Linked DNA regions of Homo sapiens. The protein of the gene in region 2 binds, or shares a complex with, the protein of the main gene of each other region. Each region holds a gene or a part of one and is shown on either strand. Other genes may lie near its edges.

Region 1 (6,881 bases), on a different chromosome or scaffold from region 2:
AAGGGAAAACAGTGCAGACGCAGCTCTGCCAAGCTAGGACTGGGGAAGGACAGCTCTGGCTTGGCTAAAGGTCCCAAAGGTCCCTGGTGCCAGACACCAACCCCAGCACACAGGCACAGACGGGCTCTCCAACAGCCGGGCCCTCATCACTGAAATCATGCAAAGTCTCCGGCCTGGTCTGGGAGCATCTGGGTCAAGGCCCTGGTGACCTCGGGGTGGCAGCATGGTGAAAGCCCACGGAGCCCCGGTCCCCACAATCGACTGGGGGTCTCATAGCTCTTGGCTAATGCTGCTTCCTTCCCACAGCTGCCCCAGCCCCACTCCAAGCACCTCCCATGTGACCTCCCCCAGAGCCCAGGCAGAGTCAGGAGCCCTTTCTTTCCAGTTCTGCCCACCAGACTGCCTGCCCGTGAGAGCACCCCTTAGTCTGGCCCCGGTGCCGAGCCCGGAGGGTGCCCCTTCCAACACAGCCCCCCAGAACCCCTCCTCCAGGAGGGATGTTATGGGTCACGGCAGAGGCCAAGAATCCACAGTCCGGCCCACCTTCTGTGTTTGTAAATAAAGTTTTATTGGAACACAGCCAAGCCCATTCCTAAGGAAGGGTCTCCGGCTCTGGAAGAACAACAGGAGAAACCAAGCAACCAAACCAGAGGCCACGTGGGCCACAGAGCCCAGCAAAACTACTGTCTAGCCCTTCCCAGAAAACACTTGCCAAGCTCTGTTCTATGGGATCAGGGACTCTGGTGAAAAGTGTCTTTTGTGTAAAATGGGAACTGATAGAACTGCTTCTCTGCTTCTCTCTAAAAGGGTCATTTAAAAGCACAAAAGCACATTCATGCATTTTCCTCTCCACAATTCGCAAAACTGGTTTTCCATTAAAAAAACAAGCCTGTGCCTCTATCAAAGGCCAGAGAACGCGGCATCTCACCGGGAAGAGTTTCCTCACCTGCTGAGTTAAAGGAACGGGGAACAATTCTTCCAAAGGCCACAGCTCTAAGAGGGCCCTGAGTTCTAGACAGGCCCACCGAAATTTGGAGGAGCAGAAAAAGCTCAGGCTACAAGGACAGGCTCAAAGCCCAAGCCTCGACCTCCAAATCCTTCACAATTGCAGCACAAACGCTTTGCAACCGCACACAGGTTCAGAAACTACTAGGCTTAGAAACCCCGCTTCCAAGTGACTGTGAAAGCATCCACATCAAGGGCCTTTGAAACAGGCCAGTGAGTCCAGGCGGGGAGAGCCTCCCTTCTGGGAAGACTGAGGAGTTCCAGGAGCCGGGCCGGGTCCAGCCAGGGCCACCAGCTCCAGCTCAGATCTGCTGAGGAGCGGGCTCCGTGGGGTGGGGGAAGGGAGGTGTCTCACTGGGGAGGTCGACTTCCTTGCTCAGGGTCACAGAATGGTAGCAAGCAAGCGAGTTGAGGACTGTCACCAACCAGGCTCCTGCCCTGAGAGCAAGTCTCATTCTTGGGCAATCGGACTCAAATTTCCACTGCCGCGAAGCACTGCCCCCCTCCAGGGACAGGCGTCTCAGGGTGTATTTACAACCAGGGTTCTGGAAGGGGCAGGAACACCTGCTCTCTCACGTCCCTCTGACACATCCTTTGACTCCCCACCCTCCGGATAAAGCTCACACTCCTCAGCCCGCCCAGGTTAAAGTCCACGCACCCCAGCACCAAGCGCCTTCCACGGCCTGGCTTCCACCAGACAACCTGTCATCCAGACTAGGAGGCTGAATGCTCTGCCTTCACTCTCTGCCTGGGGCCACTCGCACCACTGCCCCCTCCTCTGTGCCCCTGCTCCAGCAACCCTCCACGGCCCACCCCCCGGGCCTCCTTGGTGGTGACATCTTTCAGGGTGTAAACCCTTCCTTCCAGCATTATTCCACCCTACACTCCAGCCACAGCCCACCCCTTGCCAACCCCAAATAACCTGCCAGCTCTCACACCTCCCAGCCCCCGCTTATGCTGCTTCTGGTGCTTCCAACACCCTTCCCCTCCTGCCGACCCGGCAAACTCCTACTCATCATTCAGAACACCTGCCTCGGGGCCGGGCACGGTGGCTCACGCCTGTCATCCCAGCACTTTGGGTGGCCGAAGCAGGTGGATCACCTGAGGTCTGAAGTTCGAGACCAGCCTGACCAACATGGTGAAACCTCGTCTCTACTAAAAAAAAAAAAAAAAAAATTTAGCCAGGAGTGGTGGCATGCACCTGTAATCCCAGCTATTCGGGAGGCTGAGGTGGGAGAATTGCTTGAACCGGGAGGCAGAGGTTGCAGTGAGCCTAGATCATGCCACTGCACTCCAGCCTGGGCGACAGAGCGAGACTCCGTCTCAAAAAAAAAAAATAGATCTGCTTCGGAAAAGCCTTCCCAGGCAAACTGAGTCCCTCTCTCCACAGAGTTCTGTGATCTTTCTTCCACCTCTGGCTTTCCCCCTCCTTCCAAATGTCTGGGGAGCTCTAGGTGCCTGGCTGCAGAATGGGGGGAGTCCAAAGGGGGCTGACAGAGCAGCTGGGGGTAGGACTGGGGTTCTCAGAAAGCTTCCGAGGGGGCCCGACAGCCTTGCAGAGACCAGGGGCATCTCAGGGTAAGAGAAAAGACTAGAGAGTGAAGCGACTGCAATGAGCTGCAGGCTTCCCCAGCAGCCAGGTCACAACTGGACGGCGCACTCATCTGGATGCGACACGGTCTGACATACTTTGAAAGGGTCACCCCTGCTGTGTCGAGGATGGACTGGGGATGTGGTGGACAAAGGCAGCCACAGCAGAGGGATAGCGGTGGGGCTGGAGGAGTGGAGACTGAGGAGCCAGGTGGCGGCGACGCCTTAAGAGTGAGAACTCTGAGGGGGTAGTGAAGGTTAAGGGCTGCATTTGTGGGGCTGCTCCAGGTTCCATTGCCTGAGCCACCGAACTCAGGAGAGAGGGAAGATTTGGAATTAAGAAAATAAAAGATGCAGTTATGACAGTGCGATCTCGTAGACTGTCCCCACTAGAACCTGACACTCTTTACATCAAATGACACACAATGAACATAATGAAGGCCTGTTGGCCCTGGGCGCTGGTCACCCTGGACAGAACCTCCAGAATCCACACCATAGTCGGTCCTCCTTCTGCACACGAATTCCATCGTCCAAGGTCACGGAGTAAAAGATGGAGCGGGGATCCGACCCCAGTGCAGGGCTGGACTCCTGGCCGCTCCAGGATGCTGCCAGTTACTGGGGGACGCGCGGGACGCCTCTGGGTTCCCCCACCGCACCCCCTAGGGTGAGGTTAGCTTAGCACCGTGCCCGTTCCGCCTAAGGGGAAACTGAGGCTCGGAGAGGGGTGGGCAGCCGCCTGCTCAAGGCCACAGAGCCGGAGAGAGGCGTCCCCGGCGGCAACTGGAGACCCCGAAACGGAGAAGCAGAACCGGAGGATGGAGGGGGCACAAATTTCAGACCCGGTGGGAAGTGAGTGGCGCTGCAGCGGCGGAGGGCCTCCGAGGCGGGGAAAGGAGAGGAGCCGGGGACAGACCCGCAAGGTCACGGCCGAGCCCCGGCACCGCCGGCCGACAACGCGGGGACGGCGGATCCCCGAGGCTGGACCCCCAAGACGGGCCGAGCGGGGTCGTTCCTGCGCGTAGCCCGGGGACAGAGAGGCCGAAGGGCCGCAGCCCGCGGTGCCGTCGGGACCGGTGCCGCGCTCACCTGGGCCGCGAGGAGCAGAAAGGCCGCCAAAAGCCGCGCCAGCGCAGCCGCCACCGCTGCCGCCATGTCGGCCGGTGCCCGCCGCAACCAACGGCAGATGTTTCCCAGCAACGCCCCGAGACCCCGGGCCACGCATGCGCCGCGCATGCGCGTGGGGGAGGTCAAAGGGCGCGGGGCGGTGCCTGCGAAGAGCCACACGGCGCGACAAGATGGCGGTGAGCGCGCGGCGGAATCTGGAGCCGGGGGGCGTGGAGCTCGGGCCGCGCTCCAGGTCTCATGCGCTCTGCTTTCCCCGCAGGATAAGGAGAAGAAGAAAAAGGAGAGCATCTTGGACTTGTCCAAGTACATCGACAAGACGATCCGGGTAAAGTTCCAGGGAGGCCGCGAAGGTGAGGAGGCTCCCGCTGTCGGTACCCCCTCTTTAAAAATTTCAAATAAACCCAGCAACAGAGATGATGAGGACGCATGCGGAAGCACCTCTTTTATTTATTTTCATTATTTTTTTTGAGACGCAGTCTCGCTCTGTCACCCGGGCTGGAGTGCAGTGGTGCGATCTCAGCTCACTGCAACCTCCGCCTCCCAGGTTCAAGTGATTCTTGTGCCTCAGCCTCCCGAGTAGCTGGAATTAATGTGTACCACCACGCCCGGCTAATATTTGTATTTTTAGTAGAGAGGCCATGTTGGCCAGGATGGTCTCAAACTCCTGGCCTCAAGCGATCTGCCTGCCTCAGCCCCCTAAATTGCTGGGATTTCAGGCATGAGCCACCATGCCCAGCCTAGCATTTTTGACTGGGCAAGTGAGCTGCCTTCTCCTAGCCTCCGTTTCCTCATTTGTCAAATGGGGCTGGTAACTCCACCCACTTCACAGGGGGTGGTGAGAATGAATGGTTACAGGCATGTAATGTAATTGAGGCAGCTCTCAGCAGGAAGTAAGCAGTCAGACAACACGTCACTTATTCAATAGCCTCTTGGATCTTTGGTTTCTTTTTTTTGTAAGACGGGGACCCAAACCTCTTTGTCCCTGGATTGTAGACAACTGGGTGGCATGAGAGTTATTAAAAATCACAGTGCCCCAGCCGGACGGGGCGGCTCACGTGTGTAATCCCAGCAATTTGGGAGTCTGAAGCAGGAGGGTGGCTTCACCCTAGGGTTTGAGGCTGCAGTGAGCTATGACCGCACCACTGCACTCCAGCCTGGGCCACAGAGCAAGGCCCAGTCTCAAAAGAGAAAAAGGAGGCCAGGCACAGTGGCTCATGCCTTTAATCTTGACACTTTGGGAGGCCGAGGCAGGCAGATCAGGAGGTCAGGAGATCAAGACCATCCTGGCCTACGTGGTGAAACCCTGTCTCTACTAAAATACAAAAAGTTAGCTGGGCATGGTGGCGCACGCTTGTAGTCCCAGCTACTCGGGGGGCTGAGGCAGGAGAATTGCTTGAACCCCAGAGGCGAGATTGTGCCACCGCACTCCAGCCTGGCGATAGGGCAAGACTCCGTCTCAAAACAAAAAGAAAAAGGAATATGAATAAAATGTTTTCTCAGTCTACACCATGCTGACTCCGGACATGGAAGGACATGAGTGAGCGGCCGCTCTTGCTGGTCACACTGCTTCCCTTTGTTTTCTGCCCTTCATAGCAAATCACCCATTTAGCAGCTGAAACAGCACCATTTTATTATCTCACAGGATCTGTGAGTCAGGAGCCAGGGTACCACAGCCTCAAGGGCTCTCAGGAGGTTGTAACTGAGGGTTGTTTTTTGGGGTCCATCATCTTGGGGTCTTCTTCTGAGCCCACTGGTTATTGACAGAGCTCAGTGCCTTACCTTTGCAGGGCCAGGGTCCCCGTTCTGGCCAGTGTTGGCTAGGGACACTTGCAGCTCCCGGACGCTGCCAGCTCGGGACTCTGTTCCACCGTGGTGGTCTGCCCCTACAGTGCTGCAGGCTGAGCTGACATTTGTCCATATTCAGTTATTCGGGCCAGTGGGAGAATCATCTTTCAGAAAGGGTTTGGGGCCGGGTGCGGGGGCTCACGCCTTAATCCCAGCAGTCTGGGAGGCTAAGGCAGGTGGATCACCTGAGGTCAGGAGTTCGAGACCAGCCTGGCCAACATGGCGAAACCCCATCTCTACTAAAAGTACAACAATTAACTGGGCGCTGTGGCTCACGCCTGTAATCCCAGCACTTTGGGAGGCTGAGGCGGGCAGATCACTTGAGTTCAGGAGTTTGAGACCAGCCTGGCCTACATGGCAAGGCCCCATCTCTACTAAAAATACAAAAATTATTTGGGCATGGTGGCGCATGCCTGTAGTCCCAGCTACTTGGGAGGCTGAGGCAGGAGAATCGCCCTGGAGGCAGAGGTTGCAGTGAGCTGAGATCGCGCCACTGCATTCCAGCCTGGGCGACAGAGCAAGACTCCATCTCAAACACACACACACACACACACACACACACACACACACACACACACAAAAAGCAGAAAGGGTTTGGTCCCTGAAGGGCTCACCTGATGCAGTCAGGCCCACCCAGGGTGTTTCTCTCTTGATTGGCTCAGTCAGCTGATTCAGGGGCTCTAATTACAGCTGCAAAGTTCCTTGTCTTTGCCACATAACCTAAGCGCAGGAGTGACATCTTGTCCCGTCAGAGTCACAGGCCCTAGCCCACACTCCAGAGGAGGGGCACCTTGGCTCCATGTTAGAGACCTACCTACCTCAGTGCTCACATCTCTCCCCGTGAGGAGGGCGGGCTCACTGGTCAGGCTGGTGCCAAGGACCTGAACATCTGCATCTGACCCCATCTTATAGGTGAGTTTCATTTTGCAGGGGAGGGACTTGAGCAAAGAGAGAGGGAGCCGTGGAGGTGGAAGCTGAAGCCTGTGGAGGTGGACGGAAGCTTGTATGCAGGCGGGCAGACCTTCTCTGTAGAAGGCCAGACGGCAAATATCTTTAGCTTTGCAGCCCAGATGGTCTCTGTCACAACCACTGAGCTATGCCAGCAGAGCAGGAGAGCCACCCTGGTCAGCGCCTGAGCGGGCGAGTGTGGTGGTGGGCCAGCGAGACTCTGACTTACAGAGAGGAGCGGCGGGCAGGTTCACCTGGGGGTCGTAGTTTGCAGACCCTCCCCCGCACCACCGCACAGGGCGGCCCTCGGTGTGTGTGGAGCAGCCGTGGACGGGCTCTCGGCCCTGCCTTGGGAGGAGACAGGCAGG
Region 2 (7,278 bases):
GAGAAATACAATGGACAGATGCAAAGAAATCTATCTCATGTGATTTGAGTTATGCCACTGAGCAGAAGACATGAAAATCCTTATTTCTTGGCAATGTTTACCTGTAAGTTTTTACCTACTCCTGGCGTATTTACAGTTTAGGGTGAAAAGAATTTGAAAAGCAAAAATTGCAAGGAAACATTACAATCCAAGTAATTGCAGCACTAGACTAATAGATCAGTGTCTGAGGAGGCGATCAGATAGGCAGAAGAACAGCTCTCTAAATCCTCCCTTCGGACACAGTGGAGTTCCTCGCTGTCTTTTGAAGGCTTCATACCAATCCCTCCTTCCTCGGCAGCAGGGGCTACTTCTCTCCCTCTCTCCCAAAGGCGAAGTGAGTCCACTCAGAGCACCTCTTTCCACTCTCAGTCATGGCCCTTATCAGGCTGTTTCGTAATTTTTCCATTTGCTGACTGGTCTCCCGTGCGAATTTAAAGCTTCTTGGGGACAGGGAAAATATCTTACTCACTTGGTGTCCCTGGTACCTAAGCACACTACCCAAGTCTGTGGAAGAGACATTCAAGGCCAGTGCCAAGCAAAATCCCTGTCCAGCCCCCATCAGCCCAAACTATGGATACAGTGACCAGTAGGATCATGCATGTACTTCAACAAATACTAACCAAGTAATCTCTATTATGAGCACCAAAAACTGAGAAAACAACTGTTTGTGTCATTCAAGAACCAGCTGTTTCCAAATCTAGAGATGCTTGTTAAAATGCAGATTTTCCCGAAGTCTACTCAGGTAAAGGCACTGTATTTTACATTTTATAAAGTTCTCCAGATAATTTCTATAAGCAAATGGTTCTCATCTAGGGGCAGTACCCCCAACCCTGCCCCACCCTGCTCAGGGACACTTGGAAATATCTGGGGACACTGAACTGTCATGACTGAGGAAGGTGGTGCTACTGCTATCCTAGTGGGTAGAGACCAGGGATGTTGCTAAACATTTTACAACTAACAGGACGGCCCTCCACAACAAAGGACTGCCCAGCACAAAATGTCAATGGAAGTTGACAATCTCTGCTATAAGCCCTAAATAAAAAAATAAATAAAAATAAATAAAAATAAAAAAAATTGTTCTTTGGTTTTAAAGTGAGGAGTTTTAAAGAAATCTCCAAGGTACCGCAAATGATAACCAAAAGCTACATTCTAACCAAATGATGGAGTGTAGGTTATAATTAATCAGGGGTGTTTTATTCTAACATATAGGGAACCTGAAAACAACTGTCAAAATCTTGAAGGGGTTGCCATTCTAAATAATGGATTTCTAGTCTTGGCCATGAAAATGATCACTTTCCAATTTTTCAGTGTTACAGGTCTCTCCGATGATTAAAATCTGTTAGTACACTTTTAAAAGGAGAGAATAACCCAGGTGATGTAAACAAATTTTTAAATTCTAGTATCTACTATGCCACAGTTCAGTGAGAGACTGCCTGATACAGCACAGAGTACTCACTTGGGAGGCAGGAAACCTGAGTTCTAATCCCAGCTCTGCTACTTAATTAGCTGTGTGACTTGGATAACTCATAATTTCACTTCTCATGGCCCCAGGTTCCTCATCTGCAATATAAGGGAGTTATGCCAGATGACCACTTAAGTCTCTTCCTGCCCTAACATTCAGGTAGTCTAACGCATTAACGCCAGTGACACACACACACACACACACACCACAAACACAAGCCTCTCAAGATTTCTGCACAATATTTAAGCAAGTAAAATTACCAAACATCTCTAAAACTTTTTTGGAAAACACTGCAGCAATGTGTATGAAGGCCTAAAACAGACCTTTCAGATGACAGCATCTAATCTGATAATTTCACTTCTGAGAATCTAGTCCAAGGAAATAATCTAAAAAATAGGGGGAAAAGAGTTTATCAAAGCACTATCTGGGATGCTAAGATGATGTAAAAATTCAAAAACAATCTAATGTCCCACAATCGGGAAATGACTGAATAATTTACGGGACCTAAACTGGGACCCACAATGATAGGACAATCAAAAGAAGATACAAAATTAGAATAATATTTAGGAAGAGTTTTTAAATGGAAGTGGAAAACTACACTGTTAAGTGATTAAACATGTACACTCTTAGTTCAAGTAGAAGCTAGCACATACAAGAGAAAATGATCGTAGGTGAAAGGGTTCAGTGAATATTATTTTCTTCACTAAAGTCTTCTATGTTTGCAATTTTCTACAATAGTCACGTATTACTAAGAGCAGTGGGGCAGGGTAATCCGCATCATCTTAATCCTACACACCTTAAAAATGCCTGCTATGCAGGTGTGCGGACACGCATACGCACAGAAAACCTTGGGCGATAGGACTTAAGACCATACAATCGGGTTCCTCGACCTGACAACTTGGTAAGACAGGCGAGTCCAGCCTTTAATTCCTGTGGTCAGGCGCAGCCACCCCGATGTAGGAGAGGGTTCGCAATTCCCTGAAGCCCTCCTGGAAGACAGGCGAAGCCTAGGCCTGGGTTCGGGATCCGCTTTCCCGCCGAATCTTGGGATTAGCGTCGGGGCTCCCTGGGGAACTTCAACAACCTGAATTGATCTCGGACGCCAACTCGGTAGGAGCCGGGACGGTGCCGCTCCTCTCCGCGCAGTCTAGGCGCCTCGCTGAGGGCGGTCCCGGCGCCCACCATCAGACCTCTCCCAGCCATTCCATGCGCGGAGAGCTTGGACGCGGCATTTCGCGGGGACCCGCCACCCAGCGGTCCCTTCCCGGAGCCCCAGCCTGTTCACCGCAGGCCCTTTCCGGGGCTGCCTCGCCCGGCCTAGGGCCGCTGCAGCCGCCGCTCCACAGCGCGACTGAACACTGGGGCACCGAACCTGGGGCTGCGCCCGGCCCCGTCGTCGGCCCGCGCAGCGGTGCGGCTCACCTCGCCGGCGGGAACCAGAACCCTCACTCCAGGCGCCCCACGAGCCCGGCCGCCGCGGATGATCCCAGCCAAAACCGAAAGCGCCGAGGCAGGGGCACTTTTCTGCCTCAGCCAATCAGTGCTCTTCTCTGCTACGGCAGCCCGCTGGGGCCGAAAAAGCCTGTCAGCACCAAAGCGCGCAAATCCAAGATTCCTGGTTTGTCTAGTAGCAAAATTGGTGCAGTGGAGTTCCTCTAACAGAAATCTGAGTACAAAACAAATACAATACAAAACAAAAACAAAATTCCAGGAAACTAGAAGTGATCTTTTGGGCAGGATTTATTTACAGAAGTGTAAAAAATAACTTGAAGTCATAGGAAACTGGAATTTACTGTTTAAGTAACGGCATTGTGTACCCAGAAACGTCCTTGAATAGTTTAAAGCAAATAAATAAATAAATGAAACACCTCAAGTCTTTAAATCTACCTCTGGATATTGATTAAATGTGTGAAGACTTAAGCCATTTTAGCAAGAGACTGTTTCCATGGCAATGTTAATTGATACAAAAATAATCAAAATCACTCAAGTAACTCCAAATTATAATGACATTAATTGTGTTACATTACTAGTTCCTATTGGAAATGGTGTGCAGACTTATTTCAGTGCTACTATGGGAACTTGGTTTGGAATTTTGCATGAATTCTCAATACTCTTTCTATTAATGGAATTGAAAGGGAAAAAGAAGAGAACTGTTACACCAGGACTTGATTCGTTTTTCCCCCTCCACATATACTCTCATCAGTTGAAAACTTATACTTTAATTATATTTATGATTTGTAACACTATACACAGAGTGATAAGATCTTTCAACACAGATCCTTAACCCCATTAGGTGTTATAAAATCTAAGATGCAAAATTTTTTTCGAAGATAAAGAGTTCCTCCCTTGTAAACTTCTTTTGGTTAAAGGCAGAAGAAATGAACTTTTGATTGATATCAGGGACAGAAAACAACTGGATATGATTTGTTAAAGAATAGAGACTTCCTTATATCCTTCTATAAAAGTTCAGTTTGGATAAAGACCGAACAGTTACTGATTTATTGTGAGGGCTGTATTTGAAGTTCTTGCAATATAAAATACAATGTAAATAAAAATTTTAAGAAAAGTACCATTTAAATCAAATAATTACGTGCAAAGAACAAACATAATAGGATAAAAAGCCCTGTTCCTAAAAACTTTCTTTGCAAACGACATCAAATTGCACATTCCTTACTGATTGTTTAAATTATTAAAAAAAAAAAGAAAATTTTTGATTCAAACTTCTTTCCCTTTCCTACAGAGCCCTAATCGAGCCGTTAACACTAGTGTGGTGGGTAGGGAGCCATGAGGAGTTTTAAGGGCCTAGTTCATCTGCTGAGCAGCTGCAACCTTCTCTAAGGGGAGTAGCTGGGTAAGGGCCCAGTTTGACACACGGGGTGGGCATCCTGAATTAATTCATGAGCTAACAAGCTTATAAAAAGTGTGGCTGTTCCCAAAAGCCCCTCAGCAGCTTATAAATGACTTTTACTAACTCACAAGGCAATTTTCCGTATTTCCCAGGTTTTTGCTTTCAGCATCTTTTATGATGCAAAGAAAACACTGCAAGACTTTTGGTGAATACTAGTCTTCAAAACCCTGAATGTAAACATTAATTTATTAAGGAGCCTTAAAGTCATAAAAATATTTTGGCAAGCTTTAGTTTAACTTATGTAGTTTAGTTTCATTTAGTTGTTAGGACTGATGAACCTACACTGACACATCATTATCATCCAAAGGCCAAAGTTTACATTAGGGTTCACTCTTGGTGTTGCACATTCTATAGGTTTTGACAAATGCATAATGAAATGTACCCACAATTACAGTATCATACAGAATAGTTTCACTGCCCTAAAAATTCTCTGTGCTCCACCTATTTATCCCTTCCTCCCCACTGGCAACCGCTGATCTTTTTTCTGTCTCCAAAGTTTTGCCTTTTTCCACAATATCATATATTTGGAATCATACCGTACACAGTTAGTGGTGCATACACTGCACCACCCCACTGTGTAGCCTGTTCAGACTGGCTTCTTTCACTTAGAAATATGCATTTAAGACCCCTCTGCGCCTTTTCATGGCTTGACAACTCATTTCTTTTAAGTTCTGAATAATATTCCATTATTTGGATGTACCACAGTTTATTTATCCATTTACCTACAGAAGGACATCTTGGTTGCTTCCAAGTTTGGGAAGTTATGAATAAAGCTGCTATGAATATGTGTATGCAGGTTTTTGTATAGAAATAAGTTTTCAGCTTATTTGGGCAAATATCAAGGAGTATGACTGCTAGATCATATAGCAAGGGTATGTTTAGTTTTGTAAGAAACTGCCAAACTGTCTTACAATGTGGCTGTACCATTTTGCATTCCCACTAGGAGTGAATGAGAGTTTCCATTGTTCCACATCCTCATGGGCATTTGGTGCTTCCAGTCCTTTGGATTTTGACTAGTCTAATAGCTGCTTAGTGACTATCTCATAGTTGTTTAAAGTTGTAATTCCCTAGTGACATATGATATGGAGGATCTTTCTATATACTTATTTGCCATATGTATATCTTTGGTTGTTCAGGTCTTTGGCCCAATTTTGAATCAGTTTGTTCTTTCTTTTTGTTGAGTTTTAAGAGTCCTTTGTATATTTTGAATAATAGTTCTTTATCAGATATGTGTTTTACAAATATTTTCTCCCAGTTTATGGCTTGTCTTTTCATTCTCTTGAAGCTATTATGCTTAAAATAGACAAATGCAGATATATAAATGCTAAGAGAACTCTTGCCACTTCATTGTTTGTCCCTTCTACAGTTCTATAGTACATATGCCTTTAAATAACTATGTCCTTCAATGTTTCATATTCATAAAAGATGGTCTCATGTCTAGCTTATTAAACACCCAACAGCCCTGTGAACATGTAGATGAATGTATTGTGATGTTGTTGTGGTTGTTGTTGATGATGATGATGATGATGATAAATACAAACATGTAATTGGATTGACCAACACTCTCCAAAGCAGATTTTAATATGTAACATGGATGTTAAGCTTCCAAGAATACTGGCTGGTCTTGTTGGAGCAATGCATTAACTGGTATGAAGTGCTGGCATGGACCTGAACCTTTCCTGGACCTTCAGACTGTACAATAGGAGCTCATAAGCTGTGATGTGCTAGTTTTGGATACTTGGGGCCACCATTATCTGCCTTTAATCATGGGATATGAAAATTATTTGTTATAGAAAATGAAGAGAGGCCGGGGGCAGTGGCTCACACCTGTAATCCCAGCACTTTAGGAGGCCAAGGTTGGCGGATCACTTGAAGTCAGGAGTTCAAGACCAGCCTGGCCAAGATGTTGAATCCCGTCTCTACTTAAAATTAAAAAATTAGCTGGGTGTAGTGGCACATGCCTGTAATCCCAGCTACCTGGGAGGCTAGGCATGAGAATCTCTTGAACCCGACAGGCTAAGGTTGCAGTGAGATGAGATCATGCCACTGCACTCCAGTCTGGATGATAGAGCGAGACTGTTTCTTAAATGAAGAAAGAAAGAGAGAAAGAAAGAAAGAAGAAGGAAAAAAGAAAGAAAGAAAGAAAGAAAGAAAGAAAGAAGGAAGAAAGAAAGAAAGAAGAAAGAAAGAAAGAAAGAAAGAAAGAAAGAAAGAAAGAAAGAAAGAAAGAAAGAAAGAAAGAAAAAGAAAGAAGGAAAAGAAAGAGGGAGGGAGGGGAAAAAAGAAAATAAGGAAACAGACAGACACTCTCTGGTTGTTGAATACCTTCTAAGAAGTGATACAAGCTCATTGACTGGTGGGCAAATTTCTCAGAAAAAGTAGTATGTCGTTTTGCTTACCCAAGGAAGTGATATATTCTACATCATGGGCGCTTGGTTTCAGATGTAACATGTGAGATGTTTAAATAATGTTCGGACTTCATCAGCCATCATTTTGGCATGACTTGAATTTTAAAAGAGATAGGATCAGAGTCTGAGCTCCTGGAAGGAGAATCTCCCAAATGCTGTGATGCTTTATACTCCACCGTGAACTCTAGAAAACCTCTCTCAGCTGTAAAATTTAGTGAAATCGGTGTGAAGCTGCCCTTGTATTTTAATCAAGATGAACTTGAAAGGTGAACATTATAAGTGGGAGAAATTATTTATAATTTGGTAATAAAAGTTTATGTCTAACACTCCAAATTTCATACATCTGCTATGTGCTGGCCCTGAGATATAAAACAATTGAAGTTGCCTTTACATTTGGCCTTATATGAAAGGTCATAAATTAGAGTGATAGCGTTCATCCTCTTTCCTAGCTCACAAAATTT
Region 3 (7,025 bases), on a different chromosome or scaffold from region 2:
CAGAGCGAGACTCCCTCTCAAAAAAAAAAAAAAAAAAAATAACAGGACCTTGTGTACAGTTACTTATCTCTCTTGGATTTAAAAATTTTAATTAATGAATGAGTACCATCCTTCCCACTAAAACCATAGCTTTACTAAAAGGTATTAACTTGAGTCTTAAACTCAGCTGATTAAAAACTGTTTTTTTAAAAAGGTACTAAAACAAACTCACAGATCAAAGCCATTGGGGATTATGTAAGAGTCCCACCACTCAATTTCAGGAATATCTCCTTCCTTTAGCTCCTTCTTAGGAGCAATGAGGGCAAGCCTAGTCGAAGTATGGATGCCTGTTTTTCGAGCTGCTTGTGAAATCTCTGCCTGTAGCTTCTCCAGTTGAGCCTAAAAACAAGATAATCCAAGACAGAAAGATAAATTGGAGTCATAGAAAACAGAATGTGTAGAATCTCAATTTTTTTTTTTTTTTGAGACGGAGTTTCGTTCTTCTTGCCCAGGCTGGAGTGCAATGGCATGGTCTTGGCTAACAGCAACCTCTACCTTCCAGGTTTAAGCGATTCTCCTGCCTAAGCCTCCTCAGTAGCTGGGATTACAGGCATGTGCCACCACCCTCAGCTAATTTTGTATTTTTAGTAGAGATGGGGTTTCTCCACGTTGCTCAGCCTGGTCTCAAACTCCCGACCTCAGGTGATCTGCCCGCCTCGGCCTCCCAAAGTGATGGGATTACAGGCATGAGCCACTGTGCCCGGCCAGAATCCCAAATATTTTTTTTTTTTTTTGTAGACGGAGTCTCACTCTGTCACCCAGGCTGCAGTGCAGTGCAGTGTAAGCTCCACCTCCCGGGTTCACGCCATTCTCCTGACTCAGCCTCCCGAGTAGCTGGGACTACAGGCGCCCATCACCACGCCCGGCTCATTTTTTTGTATTTTTAGTAGAGAAGTGGTTTCACCATGTTAGCCAGGATGGTCTCGATCTCCTGACCTAGTGATTCGCCCACCTCGGCCAAGAATCCCAAATTTTAAAACACTTCCCCGTTGAACTCTTTACACCTAACGCAACAAGTTCATAATTTCTGAAAGCTTAGAAAGGAGTTGTTCTGCTTTATTTTATCCTTTATTTAGTTCATATACATAGATCTCACCTTCAACCCCTCCCTGCACTCCACAGTATATGCCTGCAGTAAATACGCAGAAATAGAATTTTATGGCCGGGTGTGGTGGCTCACGCCTGTAATCCCAGCACTTTGAGAGGCCGAGGCGGGAGGATCATGAGGTCAGGAGATCGAGACCATCCTGGCTAACACGGTGAAACCCCGTCTCTACTAAAAATACAAAAAAATTAGCCGGGCGTGGTGGCGGGCGCCTATAGTCCCAGCTACTCAGCAGGCTGAGGCAGGAGAATGGCATGAACCTGGAAGGCGGAGCTTTCAGTGAGCTGAGATCGTGCCACTGCACTGCAGCCTGGGTGACAGAGCGAGACTCCGTCTCAAAAAAAAAAAAAAAAGGAATTTTATGAAAACCTCACTTTGAGAGGATAAAAAGGCGGCAAAGGTCATTCAATATACAATCAATTCAACTCTCCAGGTGTACTGTCTCATTAAATTTTAACTACAGGCAAGCCTTCCTTAGTCACTCAGAATGTTTCAAATTGTTTCCCTCCACTTAGTTGTATGTGGAGAATTTTCAAACTCAATTTCATAATATTTCCACTTATGTAGAAACGAATTAGGAAGTAAAATCTGCTAAAAAAATTATGTATTATATTAATAAATATATATATATATTTTTTGAGACGGAGTTTCGCTCTTTTGCCCATGCTGGAGTGCAGTGGTGCGATCTCAGCTCACTGCAACCTCTGCCTTCCAGTTTCAAGTGATTCTCCTGACTCAGCCTCCCAAGTAGCTAGGATTACAGGCACCCACCACCACGCTCGGTTAATTTTTGTACTTTTAGTAGAGACGGGGTTTCACCATGTTGGGCAGGCTGGTCTTGAACTCCTGACCTCGTGATCCACCCACCTCGGCCTCCCAAAGCGCTGGGATTACAGGCTTGAGCCATCTTGTCCAGCACATTTTTCAAAGTATTCATTGCTTTAAATCAGGGGTCCCCAACCCAACAGTCTTTTAGGAACTGGGCTGCACAACAGGAGGTGAGCAGCAGGCAAGCCAACAGTCTCATCTGTACTTACGATTGCTCCCTATTACCTGCATTATGGCCTGAGCTCCACCTCCTGTCAGATCATCGGTGGCATGAGATTCTCAGAGGAGCGCGAACCCTATTGTGAACTGTACATGTGAGGGGGCTATGTTGCACATTCCTTATGAGAATCTAATGCCTGATGATCTGTCACTGTCTCCCATCACACCCAAATGGGACCATTTCAGCAGGAAAACAAGCTCAAGGCTCCCAGTGATTTTATATTATGGTGAGTTATATAATTATTTCATCATATATTACAATAAAATAATAATAGAAATAGGCCAGCACAGTGGCTCACGCCTATAATCCCAGCACTTTGGGAGGTCAAGGCAGGCAGATCACAAGGTCAGGAGTTTAAGACCAGCCGGGCCAACATAGTGAAACCCTGTCTCTACTAAAAATACAAAAAATTCGTCAGGCATGGCGGCGCATGCCTGCAGTCCCAGCTACTCAGGAGGCTGAGGCAGGAGAATTGCTTGAACCCAGGAGGCAGAGGTTGCAGTGAGCTGAGACTGTACCACTGCACTCCAGCCCAGGTAACAGTGCAAGACTCCATCCCCCTCCCCGCCCAAAAAAAAAAAAGGCGGGGGCGGTGGCTCACGCCTGTAATCCCAGCACTTTGGGAGGACAAAGTGGGCAGATCACCTGAGGTCAGGAGTTCGAGACCAGCCTGACCAACACGGAGAAACCCCGTCTCCACCAAAAATACAAAATTAGCCAGGCGTGGTGGCACATGCCTGTGATCCCAGCTACTCGGGAGGCTGAGGCAGGAGAATCACTTGAACCTGGGAGGCAAAGGTTGCAGCAAGCCGAGATCGCCCCATTGCACTCCAGCCTGGGCAACAAGAGCGACACTCCATCTCGAAAAAAATAATAATAATAAAGTACACAATAAATGCTATGTGCTTGAACCATCACGAAACCATCCTTACTCCAGGGGAAAAATTATCTTCCATGAAACAAGTCCCTGGTGCCAAAAAGGTTGAGGACTGCTGCTTTAAATGACCTATTTATCTAATTTCCTAGAACACAGAGATTTAACAATGTTTTCTTGTCAGCTTCTTAACTTTTTCCAAATTCTGTGTTATACTCTAAGCCAGATACCTTTGTCCGTAATCGCTGAGCAATCTTCTCAAATTTGCCCTTGTCATGGAATTTAAAAGTGCGTCTCTGGCGCTGGGAAGGGGCAATGGAGACTCGGGGGTCAAAAAAGGTATTGGATTCCATGTCTTCTGATGGCTTTTCCTTTAGTTGTTGCTTGAATTGTTCCCTCTTCACAGCACGAATATTGGCTTTCAGAGTAGGCATGCGGTGTGTCAGCTCAATCTCCTTGCCTGTTGCATCTACAGTGCGCCCTTGCTCATCCAGGATCAGTGGTGTAGGTTTCGTTTGGTCTTTTAACTCCACCTTCCTGAAAAATAGCCCGCAAAGAAATAAATCCTGTATGGAACATTAAGGCAAGCAAAAAACAAAATAAAGCCAGGCGTGGTGGCTCAAGCCTGGAACCACAGCATTTTGGGAGGCCAAGGCAGAGGGATCACTTGAGCCCAGGAGTTAAAGACCAGTCTGGCCAACACAAGGAGACTGCATCTCAACAAAAAATTTAAAATTAGCTGGGTGCGGTGGCATATACCTGTGGTCCCACCTACTCAGGAGGTTGAGGAGGATCACTTGAGCCCAGGAAGTTGAGGCTGCAGTGCCTTCTCTATAAGAGTTATTTGGATGGACGGGTGTGGTGGCTCACACTGTAATCCCAGCACTTTGGGAGGCTGAGGCGGGTGGATGGCTTGAGCCCAGGAGTTCAAGACCAGCCTTGGCAACACAGTGAAACCCCATCTCTACAAAAAATACAAAATTTAGACGGGCACTTGTAGTCCCAGCTACTGAACCTGGGAGGCAGAGGTTGCAGGGAGCCGAGATCACTGCACTCCAGCCTGGGTGACAGAGTGAGACTCCCTCTCAACAACAACAACAACAAAAAGGACAATAAAATAATTCTAGGGAACAATCTCATCAGTGAGCAATACCATCTTTTTTTTTGAGACATGGTCTCACTCTGCTGCCCAGGCTAAAGTACAGTGGCACAATCACAGCTCATTGCAACCTCAACCTCCCAGGCCCAAAGAAATTCTCCCACCTCAGCCTCCTAAGTAGCTGGAACTACACGCATGCTCTACCATGCCTGGCTAATTTTTGTATATTTTAGAGAGATGGGGTTTTGCCATGTTGCCTAGGCTGGTCTTGAACTCCTGAGCTCAAGCAATCTGCCAGTCTCGGCCTCCCAAAGTGCTGGGATTACAGGTGTGAGCCACCGCGCCCTGCCAATAGTATCTTGATTAAAAATATCAAAGTGGATATTTCAGTATACAGGACAACCAAATGAAATGAGTTTATAAATTATATGAATTTATAATCCTATCTTTCCTTATCCCTGAATTCTTATGTCACTCATGGGATGCCAGACCAACTGTAGATGCTAAAAAAAATGTAACATCTTTGACCAGTTGCAGAGGAACCTCAGATCTAGTCTCACACAATGTGGTTTAATGGATAAATCTGAGTTTGAAACCAGGAAGGAAACCTGGCTATACTCCTAGCTCCAACATTAGATGAATAACCTTAATCTCAGTTATATAAATCATAAGAAGATAATAAACCCTCCAACAGGGAAGACGAGAAAAAATTCAACTGGTTAATCAATCACACCTAAGAAATATGAAACTGTGAGAAATGATCTAGGTTCTGTGGAAAAAGAGGATCAGTAATATTTTGTTTGTTGTTTTCTTTGAGCCGGAGTCTCCCTCTGTCACCCACGCAGTGGCACGATCTCAGCTCACTGCAACCTCTGCCTCCTGTGTTCAAGCGATTCTCCTGCCTCAGCCTCCCGAGTAGCTGGGATTACAGGCATGCACCACCACGCCTGGCTAATTTTTGTATTTTTAGTAGAGATGGGTTTTCACCATATTGGCCAGGCTGGTCTCGAACTCCTGACTCCTGACCTCAGGTGATCCACCTACCTCAGCCTCCCAAAGTGCTACGATTACAGGCCTGAGGCACTGCGCCCAGCCAGATCAGTAACATTCAAAGGTATTTATTGCTTCTCAAACTTCAGAAATGAAAAGGTATTCCATGAAATAGACACTCACGGGGGAGCAATGCCCATGGCATGGAGATTAGCCAGGCCCACCATGTTGGCATTGCCGATGAGTCCTGGCTTCAGTGCCAGCTGGGCTTGGATTCGAGCTTGCAGTTCAGCTGCTTTCCTTGCCTTCTCAATGGCATCATTCATGAAAGTGGCAGCCTGGGAGGGCTGAATAGTGTTGCCAATAGGAAGTCGTTCTGGTTGGGAGGAAGAAGGAGTCTTTGGCTGTGAGATAGAGAAAAAGAAATCAGAGGAATTAAGACAGGCAGACAAACACACATACATACACACAGATATACACACACATCATGGTAGACTGTAGCAGATGATTATGAAGTGAAACATGTAGTCACCTCTTCTAGTCTCTCATTTTGAGTGGATGGCAAGAAATTCTGTGCCAAAGATTATTCTGTTCAGAGTAATCTAGACACAATACCTGAGGTGTAGGGGGGCTAATGAAGCTCAGCTGTTTTTTCCTCTCCTCGATTTGTCGTGTTGCTGCCTCCATCATCTGTTTGATCTGCTCTCCAGGAAAAAAATTGAAAAACTGTTAATTTCTCCTTCTTACTTCTCCCATTCAGGTTTTTAAACCCACAAGGCTCTCAGGTCTAGACACTTAAAATGTTTTGAATGACTATACCACATTCTGCCTGCACCACAGTGCAAAAAATTTAGTCAAGATAAGTGAGCACTGGAATTTTTCAACCCATGTTCCTAAAGCAAGATTAGCATATTAGGTAGTAATATAGTGTGATGATTGAGACTCTGGAGTCAGAGAAACCTGAGTTTGAATCTTAACTCTGCCACTTAATGCCTTTGTTATCTTGGATAAGGAACTTAGTCTCTAAACCTCCTAAGTGTCTAGAAGGGGGAAGAAAACAGTACCTACCTTACAGGTCTAGTGTTAACCACTTAAATAATGCATGCAAACCTAACAGAACCTACACAAAATATTATACTTAATTTTCTTTTTTTTTTTTGAGATGGAGTCTCGCTCTGTCACTCAGGCTGGAGTGCAGTGGTGCGATCTTGGCTCACTGCAAGCTCTGCCTCCCGGGTTCATGCCATTCTCCTGCCTCAGCATCCCGAGTAGCTGGGACTATAGGCGCCCACCACCACGCCCGGCTAATTTTTTGTATTTTTAGTAGAGATGGGGTTTCACCCTGTTAGCCAGGATGGTCTCGATCTCCTGACCTCGTGATCCGCCCACCTCGGCCTCTCAAAGTGCTGGGATTACAGGTGTGAGCCACCGCACCCAGCCTATACTTAATTTTTTTTAAAAAATCATGATATTAGTACTTGAACTACTAGTTTGGGAAACAAGAGACGATGGTGCAAAGACCTGCTCCCTAGTCTCTATAAACCCCTTCTGTCCTAAAGAAGTTCAGAATGATAAGCTTTGAGGGTATGGCCAAACAACTCCTCTTACATTTTGCAAAACAGACCTGTTCTTAAACTGCTTCAAGATATTTTTAAACATTTGTCTTTAACATTTTTTCTTGAATAGGTGATATATTCAAAATTCAAAAATTACGGAAGGGTCAGGCATGGTGGCTCACGCCTGTAATCCCAGCACTTTGAGAGGCTGAGGTGGGCGAATCACTTGAGGTCAGGAGCTGAAGACCAGCCTGGCTAACATGGTGAAACACCGTCTCTAGTAAAAATACAAAAATTAGCCGGGTGTGGTGGTG
Region 4 (7,025 bases), on a different chromosome or scaffold from region 2:
GACGAAGGATTGAAACCCTCACATTTAAAGGACTACCTTTAGGCCGGGCACGGTGGCTCACACCCGTAATCCCAGCACTTTGGGAGGCCGAGGCAGGTGGATCACAAGGTCAGGAGTTCGAGATAAGCCTGCCCAACATGGTGAAACCCTGTCTCTACTAAAAAATACAAAAATTAGCTGGGCATGGTGGCACGTGCCTGTAATCCCAGCTACTCAGGAGGCTGAGGCAGGAGAATTGCTTGAACTGGGACCCAGGAGGCAGAGGTTGCAGTGAGCTGAGATAGCACCACTGCACTCCAGCCTGGGCTACAGAGGAAGACTCTGACTCAAAAAAAAAAAAAAAAAAAAAGGACTACCTTTAGACAAAAGCAAGGATATTCCTTTCTTTTTTTTTTTGGAGATGGAGTCTTGCTCCGTGGCCAGGCTGGAGTGCAGTGGCGTGATCTCAGCTCACCGCAACTTCTGACTCCCAGGTTCAAGTAATCTCCTGCCTTAGCCTCCTGAGTAGCTGGGATTACAGGCACACCACCATCACATCCAGCTAATTTTTGTATTTTCAGTAGAGACGAGGTTTCACCACATTGGCCAGGACGGTCTCGGTCTCCTGACCTTGTGATCCACCCGCCTCGGCCTCCCAAAGTGCAGGGATTTCAGGTGTGAGCCACCACACCTGGCCAAAAGCAAGGATATTTCATCCAAAGTAACAGCAAAGGAAACAATGAGGGATGGAAATACAGTACAACTTCTAGGTAAGGACAACACAGAAAGTTGAGTATCTGACAGTTACTCTTCTTACTATAAAGCAGAAGGTAAGGTCAAAGTCGTTAAGATCCCCAAGGAAGCCAAGAGGAAAGGAAGACAGAAGCTGTGCAGGCCCAAAATAATACATTTCCTGGCACTTGTTATGTCCAGGAATTCTGCTAAGTGCTCTAATGAATCAGGCTCATTTAATCCCCACAATGGTATGTGGTAGATGCTACTGTTTTTTTTTTTTTTTATCATTACCCCCTCACCATTCACACAAGAAAAAGAGGCTTAAAGAAGGTGCTTGAAGTCACAAAACTAGAAAATGGTGAAACTGGGATTAGAACCCAAGTCAATTACTTGAAAGTTTGAGCTACACTCTACTGCCATATGGTCTATTGCCTCTTTAATATCATTACCTTCTCTCATTCTTAGAGAAACTTAGAAAACTCTCTTTCCATAGTGTCAAAAAGAAAAACACAGTGAGAGATGAGGATACAGAATCACAAACTGATTCACTGCTCTCTTTAAACCAAGATGGTTAAAAAAAGATTTTGAATGTCTTTAAAAGGAAATGCACTCTTTATTTTTTACATAGTCCCCCTACAGAGACTTCACACTTCACATTAAGTGCCTGGTCCCTGACAGCATTTATAAGATCTGCAATGCAAACTTTAATTTAGGAAGTCAATGAAGACAGGAGAAAAAGAAAATAAGTTCCAAGTTACTATTTTCCTTTCAGTTGGTATTAAGTGCAAAGCTACCACAATCTCAGAAGTTTGAAAAAATTCGTTTCTAAGTGCAGATAGATGAAATGGAAATATATCATAAACATCAAACATACCTTGATATCATTGTCTATTCCACCAGAAATAATCTGATCACTTGTGTCATTGAAGGTCACAGCTAACACCTGGTACGTGTTCTGAAATGTCTGGATGGCTGCTTTCTTCCGGATGTCCCAAAGCTGAAGCAAAGGACAAGACAGTCTATCAGCAACATCATTCTAAGAAGCAATTGCACAGTACAAATATCCCTTAAGTACGAGGACTTTGTGGACATGAACACATCTATAATTGGGATCCTATATCACTAACTCCTGGATATCCTAATAACACACATGGTAAGCAGTGTGCTCAATTTTGCCAAGACATTTGAAGGCTGGTGAAACAAAACTTCGGTTATATTTTCAGACTTCTTTGTTGAAGTGAACAGAGTTAAATCAACATACTCTTAGAATGGAATTCCCCTAACTACTTAGTTCATATATTTTTTAGAACAACAAGGATATCAGACAATTTTTTCAAACCGTAGAGACTAATTCATTAGTAGGCTGCAACCCACATTTAAAAAAATAGAGGGTATGTCAGTGAAAATAGTATAATAAACAATGACAAAAGCTTGTCCCTCCACGAAAGCAGCAAATTAACCAGCAAAATCTGTCAGAATCAACTGTTGGAACTCTCAAAACTAATCAAAAGTTTATAGTAACCCGGCAAACCCTTAATGAGGAAAAAGGAAACAAAAAACTCCCTGAGTCCCAGTAAAAGGGCTTTGTAGTGTTTTAACTTGTGCTGGCTCTGTCTCCTGCTCAGCAACAGCTTTGAAGATAACCCATATTCCCAGTATGGTTTCCTAGTACTGAGGAAGCAAAGGGGGCCTATTTCTTATTGTCAAAGAATAAACAATAAAAATTGTTTATTTTTACCTGTCTGGTGGCTCTCTGAAGGATGAGCCCAAAGGACTTACATTTATTTTGCCTAACTTGGAACTTCCCTTGAAAACATTTAAAGGAAAGGACATTATTAGCCTCTGGTTCCTGGGGGCAAGGAAAAACAGTTGGGGCAAAAATACAAACCAAAAACCTTGGGAGGAAGGGCTGGGGAAGGAGACAATTTGGGGAATAAGAGCTTCGAAAAGCACCGACATATTCCTGGCTATCTATCTATCTATGTATCTATCTATCTATCTATCTATCTATCTATCTATCTATCTAATCTGGGGACACACTCTCCCTCTGTCGCCTAGGCTATCTATCTATCTATCTATCTATCTATCTATCTATCTATCTATCTATCTATCTATCTTTCTATCATCTATATCTATCTATCTATGTATCTATGTGTCTATCTATCTATCTAATCTCTATCTATCTATCTATCTAGGGACAGACTCTCCCTCTGTCACCCAGGCCGGAGTGCGGTGGTGCGATCTTGGCTCACTGCAACCTCCACCTCACGGGCTCAAGCAATTCTCATGTCTCAGCCTCCCGAGTAGGTGGGATTACAGGCGTGTGCCACTATGCCCAGCTAATTTTTGTATTTTTAGTAGAGACAGGGTTTCGCCACGTTGACCAGGCTGGTCTCAAACTCCTGGCCTCAAGTGATCTGTCTGCCTCACCCTCCCAAAGTGCTAAGATTACAGGCATGAGCCACCACGCCTGGCCCATTCCTGGCAATCTAGACCACTTGCATGTCCAGGGCTGGGCACATACTTAGAAAAGATCTGAGAAGGCCGTAAGCTCTCTGGTTCACCTTCAGGCTCTGCACAAGCAGGAAGTGAAAGCTAAGGAGAGATGTAAACTGCATGGCAAGGAGTTGAAGGCAGGCTCCAACATACAAAAAGACAATCTGCAAAGACTGGGAGAATTTTTGTTCTTGTTGTTGTAGGTAATTTAGGAAACTTGTGTCATTCACTAGCTGACCACTAAGCTAACGAAAAAAAGAATTCAGTGGTCACACAGGACAAAGAATACAAACTTTACAAAATTAGTTCAAAAATTCACTAAACAGGCCGGGCATGGTGGCTTACACCTGTAATCCCAGCATTTTGGGAGGCCGAGGTGGATGGATCACTTGAGGTCAGGAGTTCAAGACCAGCGTGGCTAACATGGTAAAACCTTGTTTCTACTAAAAATACAAAAATTAGCTGGTCATGGTGGTGTGCCCCTGTAACCCCAGCTACTCAGGAAGCTGAGGTGCAAGAATCACTTGAACCCGGGGAGTGGAGGTTGCAGTGAGCCAAGATCGCACTACTGCACTCCAGCCTGGGCTACAGAGCGAGACTTCGTCTCAAAAACCAACCAACCAACCACTCTCACCTTACCCCAACCCACAGAAAGTCACTAAACAAACAACTACAATAAGCAGCTCTGGGGACCTAATTTCCAGAGTCACCACGCTATAATATTTAAATGCCTAGTTTTCAACAAAATATAAGGCATGCAAAGAAGCAAGTAACTATGGTCCATATAGAAGGAAAAAGTAGTCTTCTCAACAAATTGTGCTAAGACAACTGGCTAACCACATGCCAAAGAATGAAGGTAAGCCCCTGCCTAACATGATACACAAAAATTAATTCAACATGGATCAAGGACCTAAATGTAAGAGCTAAAACTATAAAATTCTTAGAGGGCCAGGTATGGTGGCTCATGCCTGTAACCCCAGCACTTTCGGAGGCCGAGGCCAGGAGGATGGCTTTAGCCCAGAGTTAGCGACCAGCCTGAGCAACATGGTGATTCCTCATCTCTACAAAATAAAAACAAAAAGTTGGGTGTGGTGGTATATGCCTATAGTCCCAGCTACTTGGGAGGCTGAGATGGGAGGATCGCTTGGGCCAGAGAGGTTGAGGCTGCAGTGAGCCGTGATTGCGGATCTGTACTCCAGCCTGGGTGAGAGTGGCGGCATCTCGGCTCACTGCAACCTCTGCTTCCGTGTTCCAGCAATTCTCCTGCTTTAGCCTCCTGGATAGCTGGGATTACAGGCATGCGCCACCACGCCCAGCTAATTTTTCTATTTTTAGAAGAGACGGGGGTTTCACCATGTTGGCCAGGCTGGTCTCGAACTCCTGACCTCAGGTGATCCACCCACCTTGGCCTCCCAAAGTGGTGGGATTACAGGCGTGAGCCACTGCACCCGGCCAAGACCCCATCTCTTAAACAAACAAACCCTTATAGCTCTACTTTTTTAAAGCGTGGATAACACAGAGAGGGCTCAGAGATGTTTCAATAAATGAATGACACACTTGAGAAGATGAACCACAAGTAAATGATTTAAAAGTATGGGTCGTTTCATTCAGAAGAAAGAGACTTTGGGATGACTGTTCCAAGTTTTAAAGGGCTGGCATCAAAAAGAAAGGAATCAGCCATGGAACTTTAGGGAAGGTCATAGGCTTAACTTCAATCCTGTAGTCAACAAGGAGAGTCTGAGTAGGATCTGTGCCAAGATGCCTCTTCCTCCCAATTCTCATGGTTTAGGATGAAAAGTAGTTTCTTCTTTGTTCATGTAAATACGAACTAAAAATTAGTTCATTACTCAGATAAATGGTCTAAAAAGAACGCTTCACTCCTCTCCTACATGCCCAACATCTCCTACTCCCCCAACTCCTGTGGTTACAGAATCAAGTCCAAACTTCTTAACCTGGAATTCAAGGCCTTAATAATTTAGATCCTATATATTTTATAAACTGTACTATAATCTTTGTCTCAATAGATACTTCACTCAGGTCAAATCTATCTTTGTCTTTCTCCTAAAAGTCATGGTAGTCAAAGTTTGTTTAAAATAATTTAGAATTTTAGTTCCAGATAACTACCACTTTTAATAATTATTTTACTTTGAAGCAATCATAAATTTATAGAAAACTTGGAAGTAAAAAGAACACTTTTTTTGGTCTAAATCATTTGAGAGTAAGTTGCTTACCCAATGCCTTATCACCTTTTTTTTTTTTTTGAGATGGGAGTCTCACTCTGTCTGTTGCTCATTCTGGAGTGCAGTGGCGTGATCTCCGCTCACTGCAACCTCCACCTCCCGGGTTCAAGCAATTCTTCCTCAGCCTCCTGAGTAGCTGGTATTACAGGCATCTGCCACCATGCCCGGCTTTTTTGTATTTTTAGTAGAGACAGGGTTTCTTCAAGTTGGCCAGGCTGGTTTCAAACTCCCGACCTCAAGTGATCCACCTGCCTAGGCCTCCCAAAGTGCTAGGATTACAGGCATAAGCCACTGCACCTGGCCCCTTATCACTCCTAAATAGTGTCTGTCCTACAAAGATGTTCTCCTACATCATCTCAACATAACCATCAAAATCAAGAAATACAGATACACTATCACCATTTTATCCTCAAATCCCACTCAAGTTTTACCAGTTATCCCAAATGTCTTATTGCACAAGGATTCAGTCTGGAATCATATGTTAAATTTAGACTCCAGTCTGCAAGACTCTCTCAAACTTTCCTTGAGTTTTATGAACTCAACACTTCTGAAAGTTACAGGTCATCATCCCCAATTTAGGTTTGTCTTATGTTTCCTCTTGATTAGATTTAAGTTATACATCTTTGGTAGGAATATCACAGAAATGATGCTGCATCTTTGTTGTATCCTAGCAAATGGTTCATGATTTTGTCTTGTCCCATTACTAATTAGGTCGATTTGATAATTTAGTTAGGATGTTCTTTTGACAAAATAAGCCTTGACAAGTACAAGGCTTATCTTGTACTTTCACTGCCCCTGGGCTGAAATAGGAGCCCTGGTTCCTTTTAATGGAAAACAGTACCTGTGCAGTAAGGGGTGCTATTGCTATTGGGGTCTTGTTGCTCCTAAACCTTTTCAGTGGACAGTCAGGCAATATATGTACATTTAGGTACACACACACACACACTCACACATTTATGTCTATTTTTTTCTATATGTTTCTATATTGAATATTGTGAGTTCACACTTATACCTCACACAAGATTCATTTTAGTCTTCTCTTTTGTACTGGTAACTCTGTTCTTGGACAGAGAAATCAGCCTCCCATTAAATTCAATATATTCACTTATTTGATTATGCTTCCTGCATGCAACCAGTTTCCCATATTCTCTTCCACCCTTCCCTACTTGAATTGTGATTCCCATTCTTGGTTGAAGCCATGTGTGACTCTTCCTTAACCAACTTGGGTCATTCCTCTGTGTGAACACCCTCATCACTCTGCTACGGCTCTTTTCCAGTCTGCACTTCTCCAAGCATGCAGTCATCATCTTGCTCAGTCTCAGACTCCCTACACCAAATCATTTCTACCCTGTGTGGATGCCCTCAGTTCAGGCTTTGACATCCACATTCTCCCCGTACTGCTTCACGTACAGGCGACCCTTTCACCCCATTAGGGCACTGTTGGGCTGCTGCCCCTCCCTCACCCTCAAATTCCCCACACTGGTTACCTACCCTGTGTTGTATGGATGCCTTCCTCACTCTCTGACTACTCCCTACAATGTACTGCCCTGCCCAGTGTGGATGCTCTCCTTACCA

The links.
Region 1: LSM6 (region 2) and LSM7 share a complex: the UniProt entries of both Homo sapiens proteins name them as parts of the precatalytic spliceosome.
Region 3: LSM6 (region 2) and PRPF3 share a complex: the UniProt entries of both Homo sapiens proteins name them as parts of the precatalytic spliceosome.
Region 4: LSM6 (region 2) and SNRNP40 share a complex: the UniProt entries of both Homo sapiens proteins name them as parts of the U4/U6-U5 tri-snRNP complex.

Annotation. Positions count from the first base shown.
Region 1 is NC_000019.10:2,325,576-2,332,456, reverse strand, and holds the start of LSM7 (U6 snRNA-associated Sm-like protein LSm7), read left to right. Parts: upstream 1-3,870; 5' UTR 3,871-3,890; coding exon 3,891-3,896; intron 3,897-3,979; coding exon 3,980-4,070; intron 4,071-6,881. Other genes in the region: SPPL2B (signal peptide peptidase-like 2B isoform 2 precursor), read right to left, coding at 3,682-3,747. UniProt on the Homo sapiens protein: Plays a role in pre-mRNA splicing as component of the U4/U6-U5 tri-snRNP complex that is involved in spliceosome assembly, and as component of the precatalytic spliceosome (spliceosome B complex).
Region 2 is NC_000004.12:146,171,457-146,178,734, reverse strand, and holds the start of LSM6 (U6 snRNA-associated Sm-like protein LSm6), read right to left. Parts: upstream 3,018-7,278; 5' UTR 2,924-3,017; exon of another isoform or gene 2,298-2,923; intron 1-2,297. UniProt on the Homo sapiens protein: Plays a role in pre-mRNA splicing as component of the U4/U6-U5 tri-snRNP complex that is involved in spliceosome assembly, and as component of the precatalytic spliceosome (spliceosome B complex).
Region 3 is NC_000001.11:150,331,513-150,338,537, reverse strand, and holds part of PRPF3 (U4/U6 small nuclear ribonucleoprotein Prp3), read right to left. Parts: intron 5,855-7,025; coding exon 5,771-5,854; intron 5,560-5,770; coding exon 5,339-5,559; intron 3,604-5,338; coding exon 3,297-3,603; intron 379-3,296; coding exon 212-378; intron 1-211. UniProt on the Homo sapiens protein: Plays a role in pre-mRNA splicing as component of the U4/U6-U5 tri-snRNP complex that is involved in spliceosome assembly, and as component of the precatalytic spliceosome (spliceosome B complex).
Region 4 is NC_000001.11:31,279,786-31,286,810, forward strand, and holds part of SNRNP40 (U5 small nuclear ribonucleoprotein 40 kDa protein), read right to left. Parts: intron 1,712-7,025; coding exon 1,589-1,711; intron 1-1,588. UniProt on the Homo sapiens protein: Required for pre-mRNA splicing as component of the activated spliceosome. Component of the U5 small nuclear ribonucleoprotein (snRNP) complex and the U4/U6-U5 tri-snRNP complex, building blocks of the spliceosome.